4 linked regions of the Homo sapiens genome follow. The protein of the gene in region 2 interacts with the protein of the main gene of each other region in a biochemical or structural test. Each region holds a gene or a part of one and is shown on either strand. Other genes may lie near its edges.

Evidence for each region.
Region 1: the proteins of FGFR1 (region 2) and FGF8 interact in a biophysical measurement, tested with the Homo sapiens proteins (2 studies listed by BioGRID and IntAct, with this or other methods).
Region 3: the proteins of FGFR1 (region 2) and FGF4 form a complex in vitro, tested with the Homo sapiens proteins (2 studies listed by BioGRID and IntAct, with this or other methods).
Region 4: the proteins of FGFR1 (region 2) and NCAM1 form a complex in vitro, tested with the Homo sapiens proteins (2 studies listed by BioGRID and IntAct).

The regions. Positions count from the first base shown.
Region 1 is NC_000010.11:101,773,112-101,779,988, forward strand, and holds the start of FGF8 (fibroblast growth factor 8 isoform F precursor), read right to left. Parts: upstream 3,004-6,877; 5' UTR 2,790-3,003; coding exon 2,758-2,789; intron 2,666-2,757; coding exon 2,629-2,665; intron 2,106-2,628; coding exon 2,019-2,105; intron 1,802-2,018; coding exon 1,621-1,801; intron 1-1,620. UniProt on the Homo sapiens protein: Plays an important role in the regulation of embryonic development, cell proliferation, cell differentiation and cell migration. Required for normal brain, eye, ear and limb development during embryogenesis.
Region 2 is NC_000008.11:38,416,628-38,423,648, forward strand, and holds part of FGFR1 (fibroblast growth factor receptor 1 isoform 1 precursor), read right to left. Parts: intron 5,315-7,021; coding exon 5,170-5,314; intron 3,109-5,169; coding exon 2,906-3,108; intron 1,747-2,905; coding exon 1,601-1,746; intron 1,365-1,600; coding exon 1,243-1,364; intron 790-1,242; coding exon 679-789; intron 1-678. UniProt on the Homo sapiens protein: Tyrosine-protein kinase that acts as a cell-surface receptor for fibroblast growth factors and plays an essential role in the regulation of embryonic development, cell proliferation, differentiation and migration.
Region 3 is NC_000011.10:69,772,331-69,780,240, forward strand, and holds the start of FGF4 (fibroblast growth factor 4 precursor), read right to left. Parts: upstream 3,012-7,910; 5' UTR 2,755-3,011; coding exon 2,415-2,754; intron 1,798-2,414; coding exon 1,694-1,797; intron 1,156-1,693; coding exon 979-1,155; 3' UTR 1-978. UniProt on the Homo sapiens protein: Plays an important role in the regulation of embryonic development, cell proliferation, and cell differentiation. Required for normal limb and cardiac valve development during embryogenesis.
Region 4 is NC_000011.10:112,964,405-112,971,425, forward strand, and holds part of NCAM1 (neural cell adhesion molecule 1 isoform 2 precursor), read left to right. Parts: intron 1-7,021.

The sequences.
Region 1 (6,877 bases), on a different chromosome or scaffold from region 2:
CCTCTGTTCTTAGGGCCTCCAGCTCCTATCCTGCTGTGGGGCAGGGACTAGGGAAGGCGGGAAACCTCTTATATGGCCACGGAGAGAAGTGGACATCAGGCTTCCTCTGATGTCTGAAGATGAATTCCCCCACACCAGCTTGACTTCTGCTTCCCTCCCCGAAATCCAAGGATGCTGGGCCATTTGCTCTGACAGAGCAAACCCTGGAAGAGCCAGGCATTCGTCTCCTCTCCTTAGAAGCTGAGAAGGGCAGCAAGCAGCTAATTTGGAGGGACAAAGGGATGGTAGGCCTGCTCTGCCAGCCCAGTAGGGGAGCTCGGCCACCAGGCAGGCCGCCCCCACCCCCACCCCAGAAAGCCCGCTCTCTCCCATGTCGGTTGAATCTGCTCCGATCTGGGGAGCTGGGGCCGCAGTTTACGGCAGCTCTCCCGACCGGGCTTTTGGAAAGCTTAACATTTTCAAACCTATTCTTCCACCCCAGTGACAGATTTATCCCAGGAAAATTATGTCTCCTCCAGCTTTGAAGGGAAGTCAGCTACGTCGATGCAGAAAAAATGCAGCGAGACATACTCGATCCCCCAAACTGGCTCAAGAAGAGGAGAAAGTATTCAGGAAATGTTAAAAAAGGTGAAAGTAAGAAGAGTTTTAATCGCTCTGCCAGACGCAGGGGTCTCTCCAGAGATTCAGAGAGAACAATCTTGAACCTCTTTTTTAACATTTACAGACTTGCAACTCCTTTCAAACTCCACATCTGAAAAAAAGCTCGTTCTTTTTCTGTTTTATATCATTCTTCATTTTTCTTCTTAGCTCTTAAAATGCCTCACCTTTTTATTACATTTTAATAGAGTCTTCCCCTCTCCTTTCATGCTTGTTTAACGTGGTCATTATTTAAAGGTTTTTAAACTCACAATAATCGCTCTCTAAAAACAACACCAGCCGCCCAGAGGGCTTGCTTTTCTCTTGGTACATCCAGGACTCTGGAAATTGGCCCCGTTTCAAGGCAGGAATATTGAATGTTTTAGAAATCAATCAGTCCTCAGCCTCTCTGCCGGCAGTAGCTCTCCGCACTTGCCACCCCACAGGGAGCCGGGAGCCCTGCCCCAGCCGCCTGGGTTCCCCAGGGAATGGAGCAGGGAGAGCCCCCTTCCAAGCCCAGTTTCCACGTGTAAATTGACCCATCCGATTAAAGTATTTAAGGGTTCCCAGCAACCTCCTTTTCCAACTGGGAGAGTTGAGGGGATTTCTCTCCCTTCTCTTTCCCACTCTCCTTTTGTGGGCCCTGGCGACATATCCTCTTTCAAGCGCTTGCCTTAAACCTAGGCCCCCTCCCCCTGAACCCCCTGCCTCCACCTGCAGCTGGGGAGGAGTGTATGAAGGGGGGAGGTGTAAAGGGAGATTCCTAGATTCATTCATTTGCTGGGCAGGGAAGGGGGCACCTGTGGCCAAGTACTCCCCGAGGCCCCTTCCCTAGCCCTCTCTTCCCCAGCTGACCCTCAAGACACCTTTCTGCCTTAACTCCTTCCCTTCTGAGCTGGGGACCCTGCAGGCCCCCGGCCAGTGCAGTTGGGACTGGTGGTCCAGGCGCCGCGCATCCCACAAGCTACCTTCAGCGCGCCTTACCGAAGGGGTCGCCGTCCTCTGCCATGGCGTTGATGCGCTTGTTGGCCAGGACCTGCACGTGCTTCCCGCTGGTGCGGCTGTAGAGTTGGTAGGTCCGGATGAGGCGGCGGCTGAGCTGATCCGTCACCAGGCTCTGCTCCCTCACATGCTGTGTAAAATTAGGTGAGGACTGAACAGTTACCTTTAGGAAATTGAAAAATACACAATACACCATTATAATGCTACTCCGCCCAGGGGCCCGAGTGGCCCCATCACCCTGCGTCCCCCTCACTGCCCCAAGCCGCCAGCAGGTGCTGGGGGTTCCCCCAACATGCCAGCCCAGGCCACCATCCCCCACCCACGCAAGTCGGGCAGACCCAGCCCAGGATGAACGAGCCCCAGGGAGAAGCTGGACCCACCTGTTGGGAGACACCCTGGGGCTCCCGGCCAGCCCGGAACAGGGAAGCGAGCTCCCTGCCCAGCGCAGGGCCCCTGCCCGGGCCTTCCTAGAGGAGCAGGGCGCTTTTAAGTAGGGAGGCAGCCCTCCCCGACCCCTGACATTTATAAAGACAAATTTACGGAGCAAATGTTGAGAGTGCAGGGAACCTGGGCACCCGATCATTGGGCCAAATCGGCCACAAGCCTCCCCCGAGGGGCGCTGAGAGGGTCTCTGCTGCAGTCACCCGGCTTCCCCTGGCATCGAACATCCATCCCCTGGCCGCGGCTGCCCCCTTCCTCGGCGGCTGGGTGTTCCCTATGCCCCCAGCCGGCGAGGATGCATGGGGGACAGTGCTGGGCTCCGAGACCTTCGTTTCTATCCTGGCCACTCACTCGCTGTGTGACCTCAGGAGGGGTGCTACCTCTCTGTGCCTCAGCTCCCTCCTCGGGGTGGCTCGGGGCTGGGTTTCTAAGGTGCCCTCAGCCCTCCCGCGCCGGCCGCAGAGTCAGTCCCGGTGCCCCCGACCGGCGCTGCCCACCCGGGTCTCACACCGGCGCGCCCGGCCCCCGCCTCCGCGCACCCCTCCTCACCTGGGCTTGGAGGCAGAGGACCAGCAAGTGCAACAGCCTGTGGGAGACAAAAGCGGGCGGGAGAGAGAGGCGCGGGTGAGGCGAGGGGCGCGGGGGGCGGGTGGCGGGGCAGGGCGGCGCGGTACTCACAGGCAGCTCAGCGCGGAGCGGGGGCTGCCCATGGCGCGCGGCCCCGGGGCACCGAGAGCCCGGCGGGTCACGCCGTCCCGCGGGCCGCCGCGGGAGGACGCGCTGAGCAGGGCGCGAGCGGAGAGGGTGCGGGTGCGGGAGGCCGGCGGCGATCACGACGCGGCTCCGCGGGTCCCGTGGAACGTCGTGCTCGCCGCGCCGCACCGAATCGCTGTGCGCCGCTGCCGGAGCCGGTGGCCGCTGGCTGCTCGGGAGCCGGAGCGGGCGGGAGGGTCACGGGCTGGCGGGGTGGGTGGGGAGGTGGGAGGGCGGGGAGGGGTGGGGGCGGGGGGCGCCGCACCGGGCGCGAGGGGGGAGCGCGGGGCGGGCGGCGGGAGCCCGCAGCCCCCGGCTGGGAACTGGGGCCTGGATGCAGCCCGGGGCGGGGGCGGGGCGGCCGGGGAGGGGCGGCCGACGGGTTCGGGATTGAGGGTCTGGGCTAGGGGAGGGGTCTGGGGACCCGCGGGAGGGGCGGGGGCGGCCGGTCTGGGCGCCTCCCCCTATCCCCGGCCTGTCCCCTCGCGCGCTCCCCGGTCCCGGACGCGCGGGGATGGGGGCGCCTAGGGCTGCAAACTCTGCGGGCCGGGAGACCCCGAGCCTGGGCTTCCCCGACCGCCTGGAGCGCCCGAGTCTGGCGGGTCTGGGTCTCCGCCTCCGGGCCCAGCCGCTTCCGCCGCCGGCTACGCAGTGGTCTCCGAGCCACCTACTGTGTGTCCCGCCGGGCCCCTGGGAGCGGCCGCTAACCATGCAGCGAATGGCTGCGCACCCGGCCCTCGCGCAGTGCGTGCCGGTGCCACCCGGACCCCGCTCCCCTGTTTCGGCCGCGTGCCCCGTCCTGTCGGTCTCTCCAGTCTCCTTCACTCTCCCGAGGAGGCCCTGGGAGCCAGAAATGCCTCCCCCTCCCCCCATCCCATTATCACTATCACCCCTTCCCCTGTGCCCCTCACCACACACACACACACACACACACACACACACACACACACTAGCCTGAAGCTTGAGGAGCACCCCGAGCCACCTGTGTGGAAGAGAGAGTCCGGAGGTCCCTGGCAGGACCCACTGTCCCCGTACCTCAGCAGGCAGCAGGGGCAAAAAAACTCTCAGTAGCTTTTACTGGGGGAAGGGACTTCCATCCAGGCCACCCAGCCCTTTCCCCCTCAAAGCCCCACTCGTTTTTCATTTCACAGGTATTTACACACCTACTGTATTCTAGGCAGGGGCTGGTCAGCTGGGCTTGGGGCATAGGAGAAGGTAGGCACTTGTCTAAGCCTTTCCTAGCCCCCCACCTTGTGGCTTCCCCCCTGAGGTTTCTGGAAACCCTGAGCCCCCATGCTGCTTCTGTGGGAGCAGCCTGGGTGGACAGAGATGCTCTGGGACAGGTGCCTTGTGAGGAGCAGGTGATGCCCTACCAGACTGCTGTCTTCACTTACAACCTCCCCTTCCCCAGTGACCCTCCATTCCCCTGGGGGTAGGGCTGGAGGGTTTGGTGTGGTCCCAGGAAGCCATTAGGCCAAAATTAGCGGCAGCCCTAGTCCAGCAGCACAGCCAGGCCCTGCCTCCCTCCCTGCTCTGTGTCCCACCTTTCCCTGTGCCCCATCTTTCCAACTCCCAGCCATAAATGCAAACACTGAGCAATGGAGAGATGGGAAAACAGTTAGAGGGTGCGTTCCAAGATCTTATCCCTCCTCAGAGAAGTAGACTTCCAGAGCACACTTGCCATCCTCCTCCAGGAGTCTGTTCAGTGGGCTCTTGCCCACACAGACCTTGCCCACAAGGACCATGTCTTATGAGCTCAGAAATCACAGCTCGTGGCACAAGGCTGGGCAGAGCTGTTCTGCAATTAAGAGTTCGTTGAATGAATGAATGAATGAATGATGGGGGAAGTGGCTGAGCCTGTAGACTTCAGCCTATTTGCAACTTCCCCAGGAAGACCTGCCTTCACCTCCTCCCAACAGATTATCACCAGGAACACCACCAGTTAGTGAGCACTTGTATCTGCCACAGGCTTGGCAGGCACTGTCTCCTCTAAAGCCCATGGGGAGGTGGGTCCATCAGGCGGAGACAAGTCAGGTGGACACAAGTGGCCACAGCCCAGGCCAGCCCTTGCCTTCCCTGTGTTCTGTGTAAGGCCTGAGTCACAATTCATTGAGTGTCTGTTTCCCTCTCTGCACTGCTTCAAGTGGGCAAAGGTTATGTCTGTTTGCTTGTGGTCTTACCCTCATCCTTGTACACAGTAGGCCCTCAAGCATGTTTAGTTGCGTATGTCGATGAACAAATGATTGAATGGAGAGATGGAGAGCAGGCACTTCCTGTAAGAAATGGGCTTTCTCCCACCATGGACTCTCTGAACATCAGTGAGATAAGCAGAGCAGGGAGTAGGCCCCAGGCAGGGGTGAGGGTGACCCGCCCATCCAACAGTGTTTGCATGGTCCTGGGGTCACAGCCAGAGCCACTCTGGGTACCTGCCCCTCCCTGGAATGGGGGTAGGGGCAGAGCCCCTGGCTGAGACCAGCATTCAGCTCCAGCTGTGGAACCCCCAGAAGATTCTGAGGGCCCTGGGTTGACCCTCAATGGTCTTCAGCCACCCTTCTTCCTCTGCCCCAGAGAAGATGGGCGTCCTGGGATCTGAAGGGTCCGAGGTCAAGTTTCAGTCCTGTCCCAGCCTCTGCCAGGGAGCCTGTGCTGGACCAGGATTCCTTTACATTTGGATTTGGAGACCCTCCTGAGAAGCGGACCCTCACCTAGTTCGTTGAAATTCTCATCTCCCCAAAAGTCCGTTTCTCTGGGGGAGAGGAGCAGATGGGGACACCCCGGGAGCAAGCACCTGGCTCTGCCCTGGCACGCCCCGTGACTGACAGATGCAAATGTCCCGCCGGGCCCCCGCAGGCCGCTCCCTCCCTTGCTGGCTCGCCCGCCTCCCGGCCAGCTCCCTCCCTCCTTTATCTTATCAAAGCCCGGTAATTACAATTGCTATTTTGTTTCCTCGAATCTGCAATCAGAGCTCCCTGGCCCAGATGAGGGAGCGCCTGTCAACCTGATCGCTGAGTGACAGCCCGGCCACCTTTCCTGGCCGCCCCCACACTCCGCAAACACAAACACACACACGCACAGACACAAACTCCCTCGCCTGCAAACACAAACACACACTCCTCGCCAACACAAACGGCCCATCTCCGCAGACACGCCCTCGCCTGCACCCAGACACACTACTTCAGCCTATTTCCAAACGCACCCCTCGATCCCAGCCCATCCCCCGGCCCCTCCAATCCACACCCGCCGGAGACCGCAGCTCGCTCCGACGCGCGCTTCCTGCGCCGGGCGTTCAAAGCGCCGCGGACTCACTGCCGACCGTTCAAATGCAAATCGCCGAGACTACGTTAAGCACTTCGGCCACTGTCTGGGAGTCGTCTCCCTCGGCCCCCAAATAGAAGCCTGCCCTTCCTCCAGCAGTCGGCAAACCCCGGCGTATGCCTTCATCCCCCAGGGGTCTGAGGCCACAGTGAGCCGGCAGCGCTCCTACTGTGCGCTGAAGGGCAAAGAAGAGGGCTCGAGGAGAGGCTGGGGCGAGGAGAGAGGAATAAACCTTGCCCAGCTGTGTCCGCGGGGCGCCCCAACCGGCCGAGAAACTCTTGGGCCGAGAGGCTGATGTGGATTGGGCCCCCACTGCGGGCAGGAGCGTGCTCGGCGCAGGCCCGCGCCCACCGGGAGACCTACCCGGAAAACCGGCGAGAAATGCAAGGAGCGATCAGTGGCATCGCGGGGGGTGGGTGGGGTAAATATTGGGGCGGAGCCGCGCAGGGGGTAGATGGGTCAGCTAGGGAGGCCTCCCAGGAGAGAGGACTCAGCCAGTCTCCCGCTCCTCCTGCCAAGCACGTGCCGAGGACTTTGGAGGCTGGGGCCAAGAAGAGGAAGGGAAAGAGGAGTGAGGGCCACAGCCAGACTTCCCCACTCCAACTCAAGTCGTTCGAATGAATGAATGAACGTATGCACGCATGCATGCAAGCCTCAGTGGCATTCCCCCGCCTTCCGCCCAAGATTCGGCCGCCCAGAGCAGTGGCGGGACTCGGAGGCCCCGGCCCCA
Region 2 (7,021 bases):
GTATTTTTAGTAGAGATGGGGTTTCACCTGTTGGCCAGGCTGGTCTCCAACTCCTGACCTCAAGTGATCCACCCGCCTCACCCTCCCAAGGTGCTGGGATTACAGGCGTGAGCCACTGTGCCTGGCCTATTTATTTATTTTATTTTTGAGACAGCGGGAGTATCTCCCAAGCTGGAGTACAATGGCGTGATCTTGGCTCACTGCAACCTCCACCTCCCGGGTTCAAGCAAGTCTTATGCGTCAGCCTCCTGAGTAGCTGGGATTATAGGCATGCGTGACCATGCCTGGCTAACTTTTGTATTTTTTAGTAGAGATGGGGTTTCACCATTTTGACCAGACTGGTCTCGAACTCCTGATCTCAAGTGATCTTCCTGCCTCGGCCTCCCAAATTGCTGGGATTACAGGCATGAGCCACTGCACCCAGCCTGAGCGCTCTTAGACCATAATTACTCAGCTGCCTCTGTTAACACACCACGTGTGTGAATCTAGGTATCTGTATTCCTGAATGAACACCAATGAGCGGAGCCCAGATCCCGAGATAACACATTTTAAACCTCTGCCAAAGCAGCCTCTCTTAACCCCCTTCCCTAGCTGTGGCTGAGAGAGGCCTTGGGACTGATACCCCAGCTCAGATCTTCTCCCCGCTGGGCAGGGAAAGCCAGTCTGGCCGGCACCCACCATCCTGCGTGCAGGCCCCCAGCAGGTTGATGATATTCTTATGCTTCCCGATCATCTTCATCATCTCCATTTCTGAGATCAGGTCTGACAAGTCTTTCTCTGTTGCGTCCGCTTTAAAGAACACGTTGAGACTCATTTACTTGGGAAGGGAGGAGGGCAGGATAAAGGCTAAGGGAGTGGGGTATGTGTCGAGGGGCTGCTTTTCCCTGGGACTTGATTCTCTCCTCCCCACTTCATCCAAACTTGTTTTCTCTTCCCTCTCATGGGAGCCGTTGTTGCAATAGGTGGTAGTGAGTGGGCAGGGATGTGGTGAGGAAAGCCTGCAAGCGATGGATCCAGGATAAACACCTGACCACAGCCCAGGTTGACGCCAAGGAACAGAGTGACGTCATAGAACAATCTCAAGGTGCAGAACACCCCCTCCACTCCCAGGTAACCCCAAGCAGGCAGCGGAGCAGGTGTGGGCAGCAAAGGCACCAGAGAAGCTGTTCTGCTGGGCCCGAGGCCTGCTGTTTGCTTGGAATGGGACAAGATTTTCTTTGCAAGGACAGAAGCATCACTTACACTTCAACATCTTCACAGCCACTTTGGTCACACGGTTGGGTTTGTCCTTGTCCAGCCCGATAGCCTCTGCCAACACCACCTGCCCAAAGCAGCCCTCTCCCAGGGGTTTGCCTAAGACCAGTCTTTCGGGGGAAACAGAGAGTGGCATAAGTTGGGGCTGGTGAAGTTCAAACCTTGAGAGGCACCCCATCTCCACCTCTCTGTATTTCACCCAACTGCGAGCAGAAAGTGGAATGAATGTTTCTGCAGGCATTTCATGAACCTTCACCGCCCAGAAGGTGTTAGTATACACACCTTCCACCACTAGAATAGCAAGCAAGGAATGCCTTCAAAAAGTTGGGAGTCAAAGTATTATTACCTGTCCCGAGGCAGCTCCCAGCGAGGGTCTTCGGGAAGCTCATACTCAGAGACCCCTGCTAGCATGGGAGTCCCACTGGAGGAGAGCCGTGATGGCCGAACCAGAAGAACCCCAGAGTTCATGGATGCACTGGAGTCAGCAGACACCTGCAAGGAAGAGTGGGGTCACCCTAGAGCAAGGAGGGGGGACGGGGTGACTCCTTCCCATTCTTAGTCAGGGCTTCCCAACAATGGCAGAGGCACATGTCTGTGTATCTGATGTTCTTTCCTCAACACAGAGTGGTCCAAAGACCATGGTAGGCCAGGAGGCCCAACTTCTAGGACTGACCTATTTCTGCCACAAGCTGGCCTTTCTGGACTTCACTCACCTTTAAAATAAGCAGACCAAATGCACCTCTTCCAGCTTGACATTTTATAACTGATCATTGCAGTAACAACTCTGTTCTCCTGACTCTTTGCAAATACTTTGCCTTAGCTTATGGATTCCTAACTCCCAAAGCACCTTCCAGAATGAGCACAGGCTTCTGAGGGAACGGTCATTCTTGCACACACCTGTGCCATCTGTACCATTTCCTCCCGTGGGGAAGGGTGGGCACACAGGGGACAAGGGTATGGTATGGCTGAGATGGTTTGGCTGTGTCCCCACCCAAATCTCATCTTGAATTCCCACGTGTTATGGGAGGGACCTGGTAGGAGGTCATTGACTCATGGGGGCAGGTCTTCCCTGTGCTGTTCTTGTGATAGTGAATAAATCTCACGAGATCTGATGATTTTATAAAGGGGAGTTTCCCTGTACAAGCTCTCTTCTCGTCTGCCGCCATGTGAGACGTGCCTTTTGCCTTCTGCAATTGTGAGGCCTCCCCAGCCACGTGGAACTGTGAGTCCATTAAACCTCTTTCTTTTGTAAATTGCCCGGTCTTGGGTATGTCTTTCTCAGCAGTGTGAAAATGGACTAATACAAACAGTTCTCTTCTCTACCCTGCATCTCTGCACTTCTAAGCAGCCCTTGGGGACAGTTCAAATTCATGCTATTGGCTGCACATTCTGTCCAAATAGGACTTCCTCCCAATCCATGTCCCAGGAGTCCGGAGGACTTGCAGTGTGATATGGAGGGTGCAGGAAATTCACGGGCTACACTAGCTTGAAACAGACTCTAGAGCACTTAGTTCATGATATTCCACTGTGCCTTGCCCAGAAGCCAGAAAATAAGGCCCAAAGCTATAAATTAGGGACAATGGAGAGGGCAGGGCATTAGAGGCCCAGAGAGAGAGGTGGTGCTGAGTGTGCAAATCCCCCATCTACTTTCTGTTACCTGTCTGCGCAGAGGGATGCTCTTGGCCAGCTTGTGCACAGCCATCTGGCTGTGGAAGTCACTCTTCTTGGTACCACTCTTCATCTTGTAGACGATGACCGACCCCACCATGCAGGAGATGAGGAAGGCCCCTGTGCAATAGATGATGATCTCCAGGTACAGGGGCGAGGTCATCACTGCCGGCCTCTCTTCCAGGGCTGAGTCAGTGCGAACAGGGTGTTAGCAGGCTTGGAGGGCCCCGTCCATGCGAGGTCCCGCTCCATTAGAAAAGCAACACCTGTCTCCTGTCCCCTGGGAACTTTTAGGGAGAAGAACCATGGCAAGTTCTAGCTAGGACTGGGATTGTGGCACTAGGAGGATCAGGCAACCCCCTGATTTTGGAGGCTGCCTTCAATGGACTTGAGCCATGGAAAAGGGATGGCCTAGAACCATCGTGCTACACAAGCCCCATCTTCATTAATTCCTGAGCCTCCTTGCTCAGCTGGACTGGAGAGGTACAGGCACCCAGGGATCCTGCAAGGGCCAGCTGAGAAGTCACTTCTATGTGCCTTTCTTGGTCTCCTCAGGGAGCCATGGCCCTTCTCTGCAAAGCCTCAGCACTGTGTGCATGCACTTAACATGCGGGGACACAGATGTTTCTGAGTCCTCTGTCCCTAAGAAGACACGGGGTCCCTGAGGGCAGGGTTGGTGCCTCGTTTATTTCTGCAGGCCACAGTACCTGGTGATGGTGGCACTCACAGAATGAGGACAGAGGACAGGAGGGGAACCAGCCTGTGCCTTGCTCAATGTCCCACTTTGGGTCTGTGTCATCTCTGTAGGGGCACACAGGTAAATATTTATTCCTAGCCAAACCACAGGCAAAGCTGACTTAATTTCCAAAAATAAGCTTTTTTGGTAGTTCTTTCAAATTCTACTCATAGGCCCCAACTCCTAAAACTTAAGGAAATGTGGCGGCAGGGGGCGGAGTTCCATTTTGTTATTCTCTTCTCCCACCTTCTGATTAGGACTCACCCCCCACCCCATTGCCACAGCAGCTAAGCCAGTTCGGTCCACCTTTCCCTTCAGCACGAGAGGCTGGGAGGCTTTCATCCCAGCACGCACAGCACTGGTTTCATGGAACACGCTTTGCCCCACGGGTGTGGACGGCCCTCCTCCTTCCACAGGCCTCCTCCCAACCTTCCCCTTTAAAACCCACCAGCCAACCATGGAGGCGGCGCCCCTGGGAACCTTCCCAGAGAGGCATGAGGCATGAGGCACGACCCTAGACTGAGCCCAGAGAACGTCCCAAGGCCTGACAAGGAGACAGCAGAGCTGATGACAGGGAGAAGTGTTGCTGTTTTTTCTTTCCCTGATGTTGAGGAACGAAGACAACTGATTGGGAGCACATGGGGAGCACGGACAGGACCAAGACAGGGACGATGATAAAAACAGAACGCTTCTCTGCCTCCAGCAGGGGCATCCGGAGACCCTGACGGGCAAGCAGGGCAGAGTGGGAAAGGAGGGGAGAGAGAAGAGGGCAGTGCCAGCAGGAACAGCCAGACCCACATGCAGGACATTCCGAGAGACAGCAGCAAGCCCTGGCCCCGCAGTCACCAGCCACCACCCTGAGCAGGCTGCAGGCTCCTTCCTCCCTGGCTCAACACGCAGACCTCCCCTCTTGGGAGAGGAGAGACGGCAGCAGGCAAACAGGATACATGGACATCGTGAAGCCTGCTGCGGCTGCCTGAGACAGGCCTTTCTGAAGGCAACTCAGTTCACCTGTCCAGGCTGACCTCCTTCTTCAAAGGCAATAGGATGGCAGTACAGGAGGGTGGGCTGCTCTTTGCAAGCAGCAAGCCCCACCCCTGGGCTGAGCACTTGAGAAGGGAGAAGAGGTGTAGGGCCCTATCTGAGACTTTTCAGATGCTCAGTACCCAGCGGAGGGGGGAGGCTGCTGGACCCAAGGACGGAAGGAGCCTGCCCTGGAGGAGTCGGGCTGCAGGGTAAACCCAGATCCCGGGCATGCATTGCAATGGCCAGGGGGAGAGCAGAGGCAGGTGTACGGGTGGGAGGCCTCCGTGCGCCTGCAAAACTAGGGAAGCTCTTCTCTGAGCTGAGAGGATTCAGCCCTCAAAGCTGGGGCAGGATGTGGCACCAGGCAGGCAGGAGCCCATTCTTCCAGCTCTCCTGCCTCTGTGTCTCCCCAAGCCTGGAAATGCATGCTCCCCCCGTGCCCGTGGCGAGGGCAGGACATCGAGAGGAGAAGTTACAGTGTGTACCTTCCAGAACGGTCAACCATGCAGAGTGATGGGAGAGTCCGATAGAGTTACCCGCCAAGCACGTATACTCCCCTGCGTCCTCAAAGGAGACATTTCTTAAGTGAAGCACCTCCATCTCTTTGTCGGTGGTATTAACTCCAGCAGTCTAGAAGAGACAACGGAAGCAAAATGGACAAGCACAGGACATGAGACCTCTAAGAGACGCAGAGCAAGGGAAGGAGACAGAAAGAAGGGGGACTAGAGGAAGAAATGCTCCCTGACATCTTCTTTGCAACAAGGAACAAACGAAAACCACCAGGCAGCAAAACCTGTTAGAGGAAGAGGGTGAGACCCTGAGGGAAGAACTCCGGCAGACCTGAGAAGACGATGGCTGGTTACGACCCTTCACCAGATGCTGGCAGCCACTGGCCCATCCGAGCATGCGGGCGGTGAGCGGCATGGAGAAATGGGGCCGGCGGGCAGGGGCTGTTTGGTTTCAGGTAAAGATAGCCAGAAGGTGAACACAGGAGGGATGGCGGGGGCTGCAGACACACACATGCACACGCATACACACACGCACATGTGCATACACAGCCAGCAGATGCGAGTATGCAAGGGAATGCCTAACCCCTTCTCTCTCTTTTTTAAGAGATGGGGTACCATTCTGTCAACCCAGGCTGGGGTGCAGTGGCATAAACATAGCTCACTGCAGCCTCGACCTAAGCTCAGGCAATCCTCCTGCCTCAGCCTTCAGACTAGCTGGGACTACAGGCACACGCCACCATACTTGGCTAATTTATTTAATTTGTAGAGATGGGGTCTTGCTATGTTGCCCAGGCTGGTCTCAAACTCCTGGCTTCAAGCGATCCTCCCACCTCAGCCTCCCAAAGTGCTGGGATGACAGGCGTGAGCCACTGTGCCTGGCCTATGGCCCCTTCTCTTAATCACCACTCACTCACAACTTCAGTCTGAAGTACCATTTGTAACACAGCAAAACCGTGTCCCCGTGAGTCCTCACATGGATCCACACAAAGCCAAGGAACACACAGAAGGCAGAGAGGGAACCCACAGACACCAACACAATACCAAACCAAACCAGCCTCCCAGGCCGGGTATTTTTCCATGGCTCTGGGCACTAGAAATACAGTAGGGTGGCAAGGACAGTCCAGTACTGGCTTCCCCGCCTGCCCCAGCAGCTTGGGGCCTACATCAAATCCCCAGCACAGGGTCCCATCCATCTCCCCATTACCTTTTGCCACAGGTCTGGTGACAGTGAGCCACGCAGACTGGTTAGCTTCACCAATATAATTGGAAACCTTACACACATACTCCCCGCTCTGGGCCTCTGTCACATTGAACAGGGTCAGCACCTCCGCATCCGAGCTATTAATCCCCGAATGCTGGAACAAACCAACGACACACCAGTCAGTTGGGCAAAGCTGAGATGTGGCCACGCACGTTGCTCCCGTGTAACTTTCAGGCAGGCCCAGGGAGCGAAGGGAGATGTTAAGTGAGATTTATTACCTTTCCCTTTTAGTTTTTTTTTTTTTTTTTTTTTTTAACGCAGAGTCTCACTCACTCTGTCACCCAGGCTGGAGTGCAGTGGCGTGATCTCAGCTCACTGCAACCTCTGCCTTCTGGGTTCAAGCAGTTAGCTTGCCTCAGCCTCCTGAGTAGCTGGGACTACAGGTGCCAACCACTATGCACAGCTAATTTTTGTATTTTTAGTAGAGATGGGGTTTCACCATGTTGGCCGGGCTGGTCTCAAACTCCTGACCTCAAGTGATCTAAAGTGCTGGGATTACAGGCGTGAGCCACTGCGCCCGGCCTTCTTTCCCTTTTACAAGTACAGAACAAGTGGACTTCAAAAGTC
Region 3 (7,910 bases), on a different chromosome or scaffold from region 2:
TTTGTACAATTACAAGGACATTTCACCTAAAAATCGTAGCTAGTTCTAGCCCAAAGCTCCCTAAACACAGGGAAGCCCGTTTTGGGGGTGGGGCGGGGGGTTCGATGGTTTGTTTTCAAAAACATATTCTATCACACCATCAGAAGCATCTGCCATCACAAATTATTTTTCATCACTAGGGTTTTGTTTGTGATTGCAAATACACTATCTTGTCCATTTCTAGCCTTCCAGTGGGATATTGATTCCTCTCCATGGAATTTATGAAAGAGCTTCGTCTTTTCCCCAATAGTCACAGCGATGGGGGCTGTCGCTGATCCAAAAAAGGCAAACAGGAGTTTATAAAGTTGTCCAAGGGTCTCTCCCATCTGGTAGATCGAGGAAGATTGACTACAGGAAAGTTCAAAGGTCAGTCTTGGCAGATCTAAAAACAGAGTGGCAGCGAGGACTTCAACACCGCACTTTCTGTACCCGAAGTAAACCGATATGTCCCGATTAATAGCAACAGGGCACAAAGGGAGTGGGCCTCTGAGGATGCTAGCCGAGAGCCAAGCCTGGGAGCTCCCTGAACTGGCTGCCCAAGCCTCAGGCGGGCCTTTCCAGACAGAGATGCTCCACGCCATACTACAGGGGATGACATCGGAATCCAATGTCACCTTTTTTTAAAACACAGAATAGCAGCACACTCGTGACAACTTTTGACAAGTTAAAGAAATCCAATGGTAAGATTCTCCACTGTTGCACCAGAAAAGTCAGAGTTGGTTTTTTGTTTTGTCTTTTTTTCCCCCCAGAAAATTAAAAAACACACCCGCAGAACTATAAATAATTTGGTGGCAATATATACACATTTAAATAATTAATTTAAATATCTTACACCTACTCTTGCATTAAACTCTTCATCCGAAGAAAGTGCACCAAGGTGACCCTCGGCACTGCCCTCCCAGGGGCTTCCCGAGGCTGAGGCAAGGGTCCTCTGGAGGGTCACAGCCTGGGGAGGAAGTGGGTGACCTTCATGGTGGGCGACACTCGGTTCCCCTTCTTGGTCTTCCCATTCTTGCTCAGGGCGATGAACATGCCGGGGTACTTGTAGGACTCGTAGGCGTTGTAGTTGTTGGGAAGGAGAATCTCCTTGAACGTGCACTCATCGGTGAAGAAGGGCTGCAGCAAAGCAGGGCAGTGTCAGGGCTGGGGCACCTCTTGGGCAAGGTACCCAGCCTGAAGCCAGGGGTCAGAACCCCCTTCTGTCCCACCCCCCACCCTGGGCTGAGATGTCTCTGCTGAGCAGTTAAGGTGTCAAGACCCACACAGGGTGAGAAGGGGACATGGCCAGCCCACAACAGCTGGTGCTCTCACCACCTGCCCTGCACCTAGCAGCCAGAGAATTCATTCCCTCCGTGTCCAGCCTCAAGCCCGCAGTTCCAACACTGAGACCTACCCCTCTGGACTAGAGAAGGGAAGGGCTCTCAATAGCGCCCTTTCCTCGGTCTGGGAGGGGCCCACTCAGGGATGGCAGGAACCTCATTGTTCCTGCCTTGGGGCTGCTTCCTTTGTCTGGGGAGGCCTGCCGGTCCCGTGACCTGGTGACCCTGCCACCCCTCCAAGACCCAGGCACAGGTGGGGCTGGAGAAGCCACGAGCCTGCTAGCCATGTCCGCTGTTCCCAACTAGGTGCCTAGCCAGACCCCTGCGGTACTCACCGAGCCATAGAGCTTGCCCTTGCTGCTCATGGCCACGAAGAACCGGCTGGCCACGCCGAAGATGCTCACCACGCCCCGCTCCACGGGCGAGAGCTCCAGCAGGCCTGGGGGCGGGGCGCAGGTCATTGCGGGGCAGGTGATCCCTGGCCCACTCCGCCCCTCGGCTTGTTCGCCTCCGGGGACCCTATTTCTGGGGTGGGGTTGGGGATAAAGGGCCAGGGTTCCCGGCGCAGCCGCCCCCAAGGGCCTCCAGAGCCCAAGCTGCCCTCTAGGGCCTCCGGAGCCCAAGCCTGCGCTAGCTCAGATTAGCTTGCCTGTGTAGGGGACCCCCGGCGGCCGCACCCAGTCCCGGACCTTCAGACGCGAGCCCGACCCCAGCGGTTCCCCAGCCTGGGCCAGGCCGGGGCGCGTGTCTCGGGCCCCCTGTGGCTGCACCGCGCGCCCTGTGCCCACGGGCGAAGGCGCTGGAATTCGGCGCTCGGAGCCCGAGTTTCTGAAGGCGGGAGGCGGCGCCCGACCTCAGGGGTTGCGCTGGGCTGCCGGAGCCAAGAGTGTCTGCGTCCCCAGCCCCGCGTCAGAAGGGACCGGAGCCCGAGTCCGCCCCGGTTCCCGGGGCCCCCGAGCAGGTGCCCGCCGAGGGTCTCAGAGTGTGACTGAGCGGGTTGGCCCGGCGGCCGTTGCCCCCCGCCCCCGCCCCTTCGCGCCTGGCCGCGCCACTCACTGTCGCGGGTGTCCGCGTGCGCGCCGCCGATGCGGCCGTCGGGGAGCGCCTGGAGGTGGAAGCCGATGCCCACGTTGCAGTAGAGCCGCCGCAGCCGCTTGATGCCCAGCAGGTAGTCGCCGGCGCCGCTCTGGACGGCCGCCTCCTTGGGCTGCGCTGCCACCGGCAGGCGCGCCAACGAGAGCGCCACCAGGCTCTCCCAGCGGCGCTCCAGCTCGGCCTCCAGCGTGCCGTTGGGTGCAGTGGGTGCGGCGGCGCCCCCTCGGCCCGCCCAGGGCGCCAGCAAGGCCAGCAGGACCGCCGGGAGCAGCGCTACCGCGGCCGTCCCGGGCCCCGACATCCCGGCCCGAGGGCCGTGCGTCGGTCAGGCGGTCAGTGCGCCCGGGAAGCTGGGGGGCAGAGCTGCGCCTGTGGCGTCCCGCGGGAGCGCACGGCCGACCTCGGGCAGGAGTGCGCAACCGAGGAGGTGCGGGAGGCAAGCGACGGGGCCCCCGGGCGCCGGGCTCTACCCCGGCTGCATGGAGCGGCGAGCCGGGCGGAAAGCGCGCGGCTGGAGCTGGGACTCTGAGGAGCAGTGCGCGCCTCCCTGAGCGCCAGGCCCGCCCGAGGCCGAGCCGCTATATATATAGCCCGGCGCCCCCTCCTACTCGCCCGCTCCCGCGGGGGGCCGTTCGCGTTCTCCTGGGCGCCCGGGGCGCTGTGGCGTTCGCGGCTGGTCGCAGGCCGCCTGCCAATCAGGGCCGGGGGAAGGGAGGAGGCTGGGGACTAGCGCCGCGAGTGCCACCTGGAGGGACCCCGGCCCCCACCCTTGGCTCCGCCCGGCCCACGGACCTGTTCGTCCCGCCCCTTGGCGGCTCCTACACTTCTGCTTTTCAGCCAGTTTTGCCTCTTGCACTTTGTCCCTGCCTGTCCCCGTCCCCGTCTCCCTCTCTGCTCCGGCCGCCTTGGCGCAGCCCTAACTCGGGCATCCGAAGCTCCTAGTGGGCGCAGAAGCCAGCGGCTGCTGCCTGCCCTTCGCCTTTCGGAGGCTCACGGGAACTTGGTTCCTTTGCTGGGGCCTTGAGGACCGGCCTGGGAAGGAGGGGTGGATAAGAGCAGTAAGCGACACCGGGGCCTGGCTGGGCAAGGGAGGACCCTTTGGCTACAGGCGGGAGGGAGGCCACCCCCACCCCCTAGGTCTTGGCCCCACAGGCTTGGCGCGTTTCTGGGCTGGAGTTCTGAATACCTGGTGGAGGTCCACCTGAGCCAAAGGGCAAGGTGGCAGAGATGCACCCAGGGAGGCCTGGTCCTGCACCCCCTACACACACACCCTTCCGTGAAAGGACAGGTAGCAGGGCATAGGGCCAGAGGGGATATTCAGCATCCCCTGCTCCTTTGATTCCACAGCAGAAATATCCATGTACCATAGCCAGAGCCCTCAATCTAGCAGGGACCCAGGCCAGGCCTCTGGAAGCCTCCCCTCTCTCACTCATGGTTCTACCTCCCACTGTGCCCATTATGGCCTGATGGGGACTGTCCTAGCTAGATGCAGGCCCACCTAGGTGTGAAAACCCCTGTTCTTTGTGGTCCCTGAGGAGCCTGCCTGGCCCTTCCTGCAGGCCCGCCTAGCCACAGCTGCAGGGGGCTTGGTGCCTACCCCATCTCTCATACCACCAGCACCTGTGACCAGAGATGTCCCCAGGCCACCGCAGCCTCCTCCACCTCCACCGCATCCCCACAGGGAGATTCCTGGGACCCCTTCAGAACCCTGCTGGGGCTTATTCGTGCCCCTGGAGGGGACCTGGGAGGCTTGAGGGCTCTTCTCTGAGGTGCAGAAAGGGGGGCACTTGGGGGTCATCAAGTGGCTTTGGCAGGACCGGAACCTCAGCTCCGCACCCCTTGAGAGGATCTTTGTTCCTCCTTGGGCCTGCAGCCTGCTTGGGCAGCGCCACCCAGACCTGGACCTTCCTGGGCTGCAGCTCACAGCTTCGAGATGCAACCCGGCTGCCTCTGGGTCCTGGGGTCCCCCAGATGAGCCTGCAGATCTGGTGCCAAATAGACATCGTTGGCCAGGGTGCAGGGTGCAGGGTGCAGGGGACCTAGAACCCATCCCTCACTTGCTGTGTTGTCTTTCCATCTCTAGGTCCCTGACTCCCCATTTGCAAAATGACATGGGAGGTGGGCTTTCCTCCCTCAGCCTGGGGCCAACCGAACACACCCTCTGGGGAAGTGAGACCCAGGCCTGGAGACCCACCTGTGCCAGCTGACCTGAGCAGAGGGACTCTGATGTCTTCCCCCGGCTTTTGATAGGATGAGGCTCCTTTCTTCCCAGGACTCCCACAGCAAGCTCAATTTAGGGCTTCCCAAGGACCCCTCCCTGTCTCTCCTATTTGCTGTGAGTTCAGCAAAGGACGCTGCAGGCAGCTGATATATCTCCCAGAACTGCAGGCCCACCCACACAGGATAGGTGCTTGTGGTGACTGGGGACTGACAGCCAGCAGGGCTTTTGGGAGCTGGGAATTCCCAGCAGAACTGATCTGGAATCTGGCTTCCACTTTGCTCCGGGTGCTCCCTGAGCACACTCTCAACCTCCGCAGGCCCTGGCCTCCTCAGCTGTGCAATGGAGGCAACAAAAGCACAGGTAAGGAAGAATTGCGGATGAAGGATGCACCAGGAAGCACTCACTTATCTGCATCTGACCCCTTTCCGTGCCCCTGGCCCTTGACCTGGCTTCCCACCTGCTTCCTTTCTGCTCCTGTGTTCCCGCCATGCTGACCGCGTCATCTCTCCCCTTCCCACTGGATGACCCCCGGCCCCAGATCTTCCTGCCAATGACTTATCCCATTCAGGTTTGCCTGAATGGAGAAGCCACTCCATTGGAGTAGCCACTCGGGGATGCCTTCTGGATCCCCTGCCCAGTCCTTCTGGTTGGAGCTTCTTTGAGCTCTTAAGAGAACCTTCTGCACTTGTTAGCTGACCCTCCACCGCATTTAGATTGTCATCTCCATGGAGCAAGCCCGGATTTGTGTTGTTGCCAGTTGTACCTCCAGTGCTGGGCACATAGTAGGTGCTCAATAGCTGTTTGTGAGTAAATGGCTGGCTAGGTACACTAGGAGCTCATCCATCAGCAATCCTCACTGCAAGCTGCCCTGCCCAATCTGCCACTGTGCCCCGGGGCAGACAAACAGAGGTACCTGCAAAGGCCTCAGGCAGAGCTGCCCCTATGGGAAGGTCTGCATTGCCTTTTTTTTTCTTTATGTGAAAGAAATAGTTGGACCAAGGTGACTAAATCTTTTCCAGATCTGGTTACTTCTCAGCAGAGAGACAAGGGGACCTATATATAATTTTTTTTTTTTTTTTGAGATAGTATCTTGCTCCATTGCCCAGGCTAAAGTGCAGTGGCTCTATCATAGCTCTACAGCCTCAAACTTCCAGGCTTAAGCAATCCTCCAGCCTCAGTCTCCTGAGTAGCTGGGACTACACACTCAGCTAATTTTTTGTTTTCTTTTTTAGTAGAGACGAGGTCTCGCTGTATTGCCCGGGCTGGACTCAAACTTTTGACCTCAAGCAATCCTCCCGCCTCAGCCTCCCAAAGTGCTGGGATTACAGGCATGAGCCACTGCACCTGGCCAGGTGATCTAGAAACAGGACCCTCACTTAGCTTGGACCCAAAGCCCTTCTGCCATGCTTTACCCCAGGACGCCCGCTTTGCCAAGTCCTGGGGTTCGAGGAAGGCTTGGGGCCATGTTGGGCTTCCGGTTGGGTTCAAGTTTAGGCTGTCTCCCTGTTAGTTGTATAACCTTACGCTATTTCACTTCTTAGCATTCTCAGTTTCCCCATCTGTAAAATGGGCATGAGCTGATGTCGGCCTTAGCAAGACAGTGCCTGACCTCAGGAAGAGGCTGAGCAAAGTGAGCTGTTTAGACTGCAAGCCCCTTGGGGGTGGTTCAAACTGGGTCTGATTAACAGTAAATGCTGGGAATTTGTGAAATAAACAAAGCCATGTCATTATCGGGTGGAAGTCTCCCTGTACGTCATCAGCCACTGGAGGGGTAATAAATTGAGGGAGAGGAGCAAAGGCCCAGAAAGCCTCCTAACAGTGACCTTTTTCGACCTCCAAAAAAAAAAAAACAACAATGTAGGATCTTCATGTGAATGGTCCCGTCTCCCGTGAAGGAGTGAAGAGGCTTCTCAGAGCCACCAGCTCAGGTGTTAGCTGTTAAGAACTTACTTGGCTTAATAGTAATAATAATAAAAAAGAAAGTGCTGCATAATAGTCCACTTATAGTCCTCAGGGCAAAATGACTGAGCTCAGCCCGGGGCAAGGGCCCAGGCTGTGTAAACTTTGTAAATAGCTCAACTGCTTTCTCAATTCAACTTCCCTTTCTTGGCTTCAGCAAGACACCCTCACAATGATGTCTTTCTGCAAAAGTCCAGGAGGATGATAAGGCCGGTGGGATAGACTGGTCTACACTGAGCCGAAGCACCCCAAAGCAAGTGGCATGTTTTTCTTTAGGACCTTCAGAATAAGGGGAGATTGAGCCAATTTTTTTTTTTAGCTTTTTAAAAAATGGTGTTAATTGGGTGCGGTGGCTCACCCCTGTAATCCCAGCACTTTGGGAGGCCGAGGCAGGCAGATCACTTGAGGTCAGGAGTTCGAGACCAGCCTGGCCAACATTGTGAAACCCCATTTCTACTAAAAATACAAAATTAGCTGGGCGTAGTGGTGCATGCCTGTAATCCCAGCTACTCAGGAGGCTGAGGCAGGAGAATCGCTTGAACCTGGGAGGTGGAGGTTGCAGTGAGCTGAGATCGCGCCAGTGCACTCCAGCCTGGGCGCTACAGAGCGAGTCTCCGTCTCAAAAAAGAAAAAAAAAGGTGGTAAAATATACATGATACATAACATAAAATTGATGTTAACCTATTTTTTTTTTGAGGTGGAGTCTTGCTCTGTCACCCAGGCTGGAGTGCAGTGGCGCGATCGTGGCTCACTGCAAGCTCCGCCTCCCAGGTTCACGCCATTCTCCTGCCTCAGCCTCCTGAGTAGCTGGGACTACAAGCGCCCGCCACCACGCCCGGCTAATTTTTTTTTTTTTTTTGTATTTTTAGTAGAGATGGGGTTTTACCGTGTTAGCCAGGATGGTCTCGGTCTCCTGACCTCGTGATCCACCCACCTCGGCCTCCCAAAGTGCTAGGATTACAGGCATGAGCCACCGTGTCTGGCCTGATGTTAACTATTTTTTAAAAGACTTTTTTCAGAGCAGTTTTAAGTTCACAGCAAAATGGAGAGGAAGGTACAGAGAGTTCCCTTACACCCTCTGTCCCCACACACTCACAGCCTCTCTCATTTTAGCCATTGTTAAGTGCACGGGTAAGTGGCATTAAGGACACTCACATTCTAGTGCAACCATCACCACCATCCATCTCCAGATGGTTTTCATCTTCCCAAACTGAAACTCCCTGCCCATTAAACACTTGCTCCCCATTCGGCTCCCCCAGCCCCGGCACCCACCATCT
Region 4 (7,021 bases), on a different chromosome or scaffold from region 2:
TTGAACGATCTGGAATGGTTAAGTCACATGTTTACTTGATAATTTTGCAGTCTTCTGCCAGTTAAACTTGCAAGAGTCAAGGAATGGATAGGACTGGGTTTCTAACAAGATACCATCGGTTAAGAACAAAGAGCTACTTTACAAAAGCTAACATTGAAATCAAGTAGTATATATAATATCTCTCACTAAGCAAATTAAGGTGCGCTTCCACAAAGTTGACTGTGAGCACAGTTATAGTGAGCCATATATTTTTGTTGATTTTCATTTGAAGACTGAGAATGTGTGTTTTTAAACAGAATTTCACTGAATGTAATAAAGGCTATATAAGAATGTGGAAAACCTTTCACAACTCTAACCAAACCCTAGAAAGATTATTTTCTTTCAATAAATACTAGCATATTTAGAAATATTAATAACTGATAATTTGTTTTAAATCCAACAGAGTTATTAAAAACAGGGAATATAATCCAGACATTGTAGACGTGTGGGCTATGATTTATGTAAGTTTTTGAGTTACTATTCCCTCTATAAAGGTCTTAAAGATCTGCTAACCTAGCTAAGCTTCCATTAGTCTTTAACTGTTTTCTTAAGTTAATGCTTTATGAACGCCCTCTTTCTTTCCCTAAATTGTTGAACCTGATAACTTCCTTCCAGATACCTTTATCTAGGATTTTTTTTTTAAAAATGGAATACCAGAAAATAGCAGGACATATTCTTGTTTAGTAAAGGAGTTTCCTCTAAGTCTTACAATGATAATTGATTAAACTAAGAATATGTTGATTTAACTGGTGACTGGTTTCTTGAGTTTGATAGTTCAAGAATTAAGATAGTAATTGCAAAGAAAAAAAAATCCCACATCAAAACTGAAAAAAAAATGATGTGGGTGTGCTATTTGTAAGGGATGTGGGTGTTTACTGAAGGCAGCAATAAGAAGGAGAAATTAGTCTGTAGCACCCCCAAATTCCAAGTTTTGAACAGTGCTTCTGTTTGGAATCCATTTATCATTAATTGAATTCCTCAGATAGGTAATATGTAATTTAATGGAAGTAACCTATATCTGTATTTTTCTGTCACAAGGAACAATGTCTTAATTGCCTTTCAAAGTAAACAGCACCATTTTGTCACTCAAAAGCTAATCTTTAGACATGTTTTTGTTCACTACAGAACCCAGTTTCTCAAATTATAGAGAGCATTTTGTAAAATTTACACTGCTTAAATAATGGACTCTGGAATTTCTGATGCAACCACTTAATTTTTCAAGGTGATGAAGCCTCTGTTAAGTATGAGTTTGATAAATTTCTCATAATTTTGTCTTTAGTATTAAAGAACTGTGGCTGCTCTCCAGACTGAAAGTGGCTTCAATACTACTGGCAGGCTTCCAAAGACATTTTACAGACAGTCCTTTCTGACTTAGTGTAAAATAAGTGATTGAGTACCTGTTGCTAAAGAACGGGTTGCACTTTTAGGATCTTGAGCTTGTGATGGAGAGCAGAACCAATTGGCAGGCCAGGGAGAGAAGGGATCGCACCTGCCCCCGTCAGTCTGCGGGAAGAATCATAGACTAGGAGGAGACAAAGACATCTTATAAAGGCTCTCCTGCACCAGTTCAGCATTGCTTTTTTGAGCACACACATGTTTTCTGGTGTCAAGATAAATATTTTAATGTAAATTCCATAATTGATCATTTTTCAGTTTAGCAGTTATAACATATAGACTAAGGAATGTCTGGAACTTTAAAAGAAATGGCAGCACATTACAGGGAGCATTTTACTGATCTTAAAACTGGGTTACAAATTACACAAAATTGAAAACATTAATCACGTGGCTGTATAAAATGAAGTCATTTGAGCTTTTAATAAAAGTCACTAAGGTGAAAATTCCTTTGGTTAAAAAGAAAGAATTCTAAGTAAAATTCGAAGAAGAAAATTTTTTACTTTTCATAATATACTCAGTGACTCTGAGCAATGCTGTAAGAGATGGTCTTTTAGGAAGGAGGAAATGTCCAAGGACCTCTGAATCCTAATGATTAGGTTTCTATGAGCTCCAGAGTTTTCACTATTCGAAAACATTGTAGTGAAACTATTTTTAACAATACAGGTAGATATGCTTACTACTTACTGTAGGGTAATAGAATACAGAAGTCAATCTGAAGGTCATAGTCCTGTTACCTCTAGCCTCTTTTGTTATTAACTCTTGGGGCCAAACCTTAAAACCATTTGCTGATGTAAAGGGATGTAAATTATTTGGCGTTGGCAGTGGTGCCATTATGCCTTTTCATTTCATGTTGTTGAAATACTGTCTCTCAGCTGCAGATGCTCATTAGGAGCATTGCTTTTTGATGTTGGCCTGGGTGCCAAATGGCGGCCTTTCAGGCAGTTTCAATACGTTACATTTAAAACATGCTCAGGCCATGTCTACATGCAGCCACTGAGTTAACGGATTTTCAGTTGGGTAGACACACTTTTCCTTTCCTGCAGTATTAATTTAGCTTCTAAGCAATTGGAGACTCCAAGAGGACTGCACTAAAAGGATAAGCTATTTGGTGTATCTTGTGTATGTGTGCTTTTGAAAAACAGATTGTAATAAACCCATTATGCATTCTATTTTCTTCCATATATACGTAACACTTTCTTGAATTCAAAGATTGCATGGCTGATATGATTTAAAAGGCTTCTATGTAACCTATATTCCACTTCGTACTCTGAGGACTTTTTGATTTGTAGCTGCAAACATGGGTAACAGCTGATCTTCCGTTTTCTATTTGGCGTCATTCCTGAGATAAGGTGTAAAATGCCTTTTGTTGTACATTAATCACCTCCTTTGGTATCTGATTACCTCATCATTTAAGAATATTCATAGTAATGTCACACTGTTTGAGATTGTGTTACATTAGGTATTCTCTTAAATAGTTGATCAAATATGTTTATTGAGTGCCAGCTTTTTATCATCTGCTCTGTGGGGAATTAAAAGGAGTGAGATGACATAATTTCTGCTGTCAGGGAACCTTGGGAGTAGTAGAGACTAGAGATTAAGAGAGGTAGATAACCCTGGGTTGAAACCCCAGACATATCCCTTACTAGCTGTCTGATCTCAGACAAATGATTTAACTCCTTCAAGTTTCAGTTTCCTCTTCCGTGAGATCGGAAAATTAGTAATGCCTACTTGTTAGAGTTATAAATATTTTAGAGATCTTAGGACTTCAGTGCATGTAGGCAGTGTTCATTAGTGAGCAAGAAGGATATATATGGATCTGGAAAAAATAATTATTTAGACATAGTGCCCTCTTTTTAGAAGGATTTTAAAAAGGGTATTATGATACACAGGACTCCTTCAGAGATTAGAACTAGGCTTAAAAAATTGGTCACTAAATATGCCTGCAATTCCATGTTGGTTGTGAATACTTCAGAGAAAAAAATGGCCTGATTATAAGGTTGAAAACCATCAGCACAAGGGTGGATCTAGGTCTTGTTGGGCCTGAAGGGTATATAATTTTGAGGGCCTTCTTTAAGGAAAATACAAAACTCTTCTTGCTTTTGCGAAGGTTAGTTGAATACATGACCATGAGAACACATTGCCAAGTCCCAGTCCCCCAGAGCCTTGGAAGGAGTCCATGCAGTTGAGGAACCCTGAAAACTTCTGGTCCTTCTTTAGCAACTATCCTTTGGTCCACTTGGACCCACTTGCTTGGGAATATAAACTAATCGTTCCAGTTTATTAAACGTGGACCTCATAGAGGTTGTATGTGTAGTGCTTTGAAGATTAGAATCATATATTGAAGTCAAAGTCATTTTTAGAAAGAAGTATTTCACTTTTATTTGACAGAAGATCTTAAATGAGATCTGAGCTGATTTGATATTTGTCACTGCCGATATTCTTGTAAATTACTAACTAGAAGAAAATAAAGCAATTGCTATTATTATTCAAATGAGTGAGATGTAAGTGCCCGATTGGCAGGGCAAGAAGTAGTTTTGCCAGCTAAAGGCATATGATATTGGAGAGGAGACTGAAGATTTTGTTTTAGCTATCTAAAAGGAGATAAACTGGATATATAATACCAATAATTATATCTTAATCATCACGTTATGGTTTACAAAACACTTTGATATGTGCTTAATCTTCACACTAATTATTTAGTAAATATTGACTGAGTACGTGCTCTGTGCTGGGTGCTGGGAATACAGCGGTGAACTAAACGTACATCGTCCCTGTTTTCATGGAGTTTCCAGTCTAGTAGTACAGAGAAATATAGACATTAAAAAGTAACACATACATTTATAATTACATATTCAGATTCAAGTCTAAGAAAAACCCAGGATGAGAGATTATCAAGGGGGATTGGGTGGTTGGGGAGGTGAAGATGTAACATTTAAACAACTGTGAAATAGGAAGAACAGATGGTATTCTCATTTTAGGGCATGGTTGATTGACTACTTAATTCAACAAACATTGAATTACAACAAACATTCCTGAATTCCTTAACTCAACAAACCTTTGTGAAGTCTGGAGAAGGTCAGATAGCTTCAGGAATCGTGTGGAGTTTCACGTTATGAAGTCCAGGAAAATAATACATCTGCCTTTAGAGCTTACCACCTGGAAGGAGGGGAGACAGACATACTATACTTATAAACAGAGGCATGAAGTAAATGCTGTTGGGCCACAAGAAAGGAAGCAATTAATTCTGCCTGGGACTCCCTCGAGCTGGGCTTGGGGAAGAATTGCTTTCATTAGATGGAGCAGGAAGAAGGGGTGATCTGGGCAGAGCAGACACCCTGAGCAGTGGTTGAGATCTGAATCTGGTTGTACATGGGGAACAGTGTGAGAGTAGTGGGGAGGAGTAGCCAGAGATAAGGAGAAAAAAAAATTCTGCAAGTCCAGATTGTAAGTCTTTAAATGGAAACTGAGACTGAGAAAGGTTAAATGACTTAGGCAGGTGGAGCTGGGACTGCAACTTACGTTCGTTGTCTGAATTTTATCCTTTTCTAAGGCAAGGATAATTTGAATATATATAGCATCTGAATACATGCCAAGCAAACAGGAATTCCTGTGGCTTCTGGACTGAGTCTGACCAAAGTGTGGGAGGAGTGATGGGGAGGAAGGGCACTATTCAGAGCTGTGGTCTGAAGGAACCGTCCTGCCATTCTGCAAGTTGCTGTCGTTCTGAGCCTGTTTCCCCATCTGTAAAATGGGGTTAATGACACTTCCCTTGTGGGTCTTGGTGAGCTGAAATAAAACCACATATGTAAAGCAGATATAAAGTATGTACTCATTATGTGCTTTAAAAAAGTTCCCTGTGGTCAGATATTTTATTTGAAATGTTTGTTTAAAAAGGTGTACAGTACTCTGAATATGATGTGCAAAGTTCTGTGCTAGAGGCTTAGAGGAAAAACAAAATAAATTTAAGGTTACTATACTGACCCTTTCAGGTGGTTGGAGAGGAAGCACTTTTGCTTAGTTCAAGCTGCGAAGAAATCATGAAAGATATTATATCAGTAAGTGCCCGAATGAAGCAGGCAGGTAAAAACTGGGAAAATTGAGAGGCAAAAATCATGTCTATTAGTTTTAATGTCTGGGGGAAAAAAGAGGTATAGAAAAGCTAGAACTGACCTGGACCTCCACAGATATGAAGGTAAATAGGGAGAGAGGGCCTGTTTTCCTATAGGATGAGGTGGATCTGGCCAAAGAATTGCTATTGAAGAGCAGTTAAAGGCTGGAACTTGGGGCAAGCCATATTTAAATCTTAAATGTCAGACAAAGGAGAGGAGTCCTGCTGGAGATGACAGAGAAATTAAAAATATATATATATGTTTAAGAGGATAGTTAACAATAGCAACTGAGCGTGTGCTGCCTCAGGCTCTATGTTTGGGACTAGCTGGGAATTAGCAGAGAGTTAAGTAGGAACAAATTCATATAGTTCATTGCAGCACTAAAAGGGAATTCTGGTTTTATATAGCATCCACTATGGTGGTCGGACAAAATGAAGGGCTAACGAAGGGATTTTTATTGCTGTATGAAACATCAACTAGATGATACTAGGAGAAGGGAGGCTAGTGAAGTCCAATGAAAGTATCTTGCTTAATCAGTAGGAACACCTGTATGCGGGGAAAGGACACCATTGGGCTTAGATTCGAAAGATCTGGGTTCAAGAAGTTGCTCTGCTACTAACTAGCCAAGTGAATTTATATCAGTTATGTAACCTCTTTGAACTGTAACTTCCGCAATCGAATATAAGAACAAAATAAGATAATATATGGGAAATGCATTGTAAATGAAATATTTCACAGCTATACATTTTATTAGTAGACATGTTGCTGAAAAATAAAAATCAAATTTTATGTACTGCTAGAGGTGCTTGTTTGATTAAAGAAACCCAACTATGATATATTTTCTAAAGCAGGAAATTTTGGAAAGATACACTTGTAATGATTTTGGATAAGGATAAAGGGGGCATAGCTGAGATGTTAGAAATAACAAAGCAACCAAGGGTAGATGATAGATCCCAAATGGTAGATGACTGAGAGGGAGAAAGATCTTTGAAGTTACAAACTCGAGGAAATTAAATAATCATGGTACTGTAAATATGATGGAGAAATTAAGAGACAGGTTAGGTTTTAGAAAAAGTTTGGGCCTCCTAATACCTTAACTTGTAGGTCAGTATTTTTCAAACTATGGATGATGAAATCTGTTTAACGGGCTTCCATATATATTAAGAAAGAAGTAAGAGAGGAAGGAAAAAGGGGAGGAAGGAGGGAGAGAAGGAGGGAAGAAGTGGAAAAAGAGAGTGTGTTTTATATAAGGGTAAGTACTGCTTTGAGTACTTCAATTTCTCTCTCTCTCTCTCTCTGTCTCTGTCTCTCTCTCTCTCTCTCTGTGTAATATGTAACTTGGTTGTAATGGAAAATACATTCTTTTGGCTCAGGTCAAAAGAGTTTGGAAGCTACTGTCATCGAAGGAAGAATGTGGGATCAAAGAGAGGGTGAAGCAGTCTGTAGTGGAGTAAGAGTACGTCAGAAGGTATAGAATA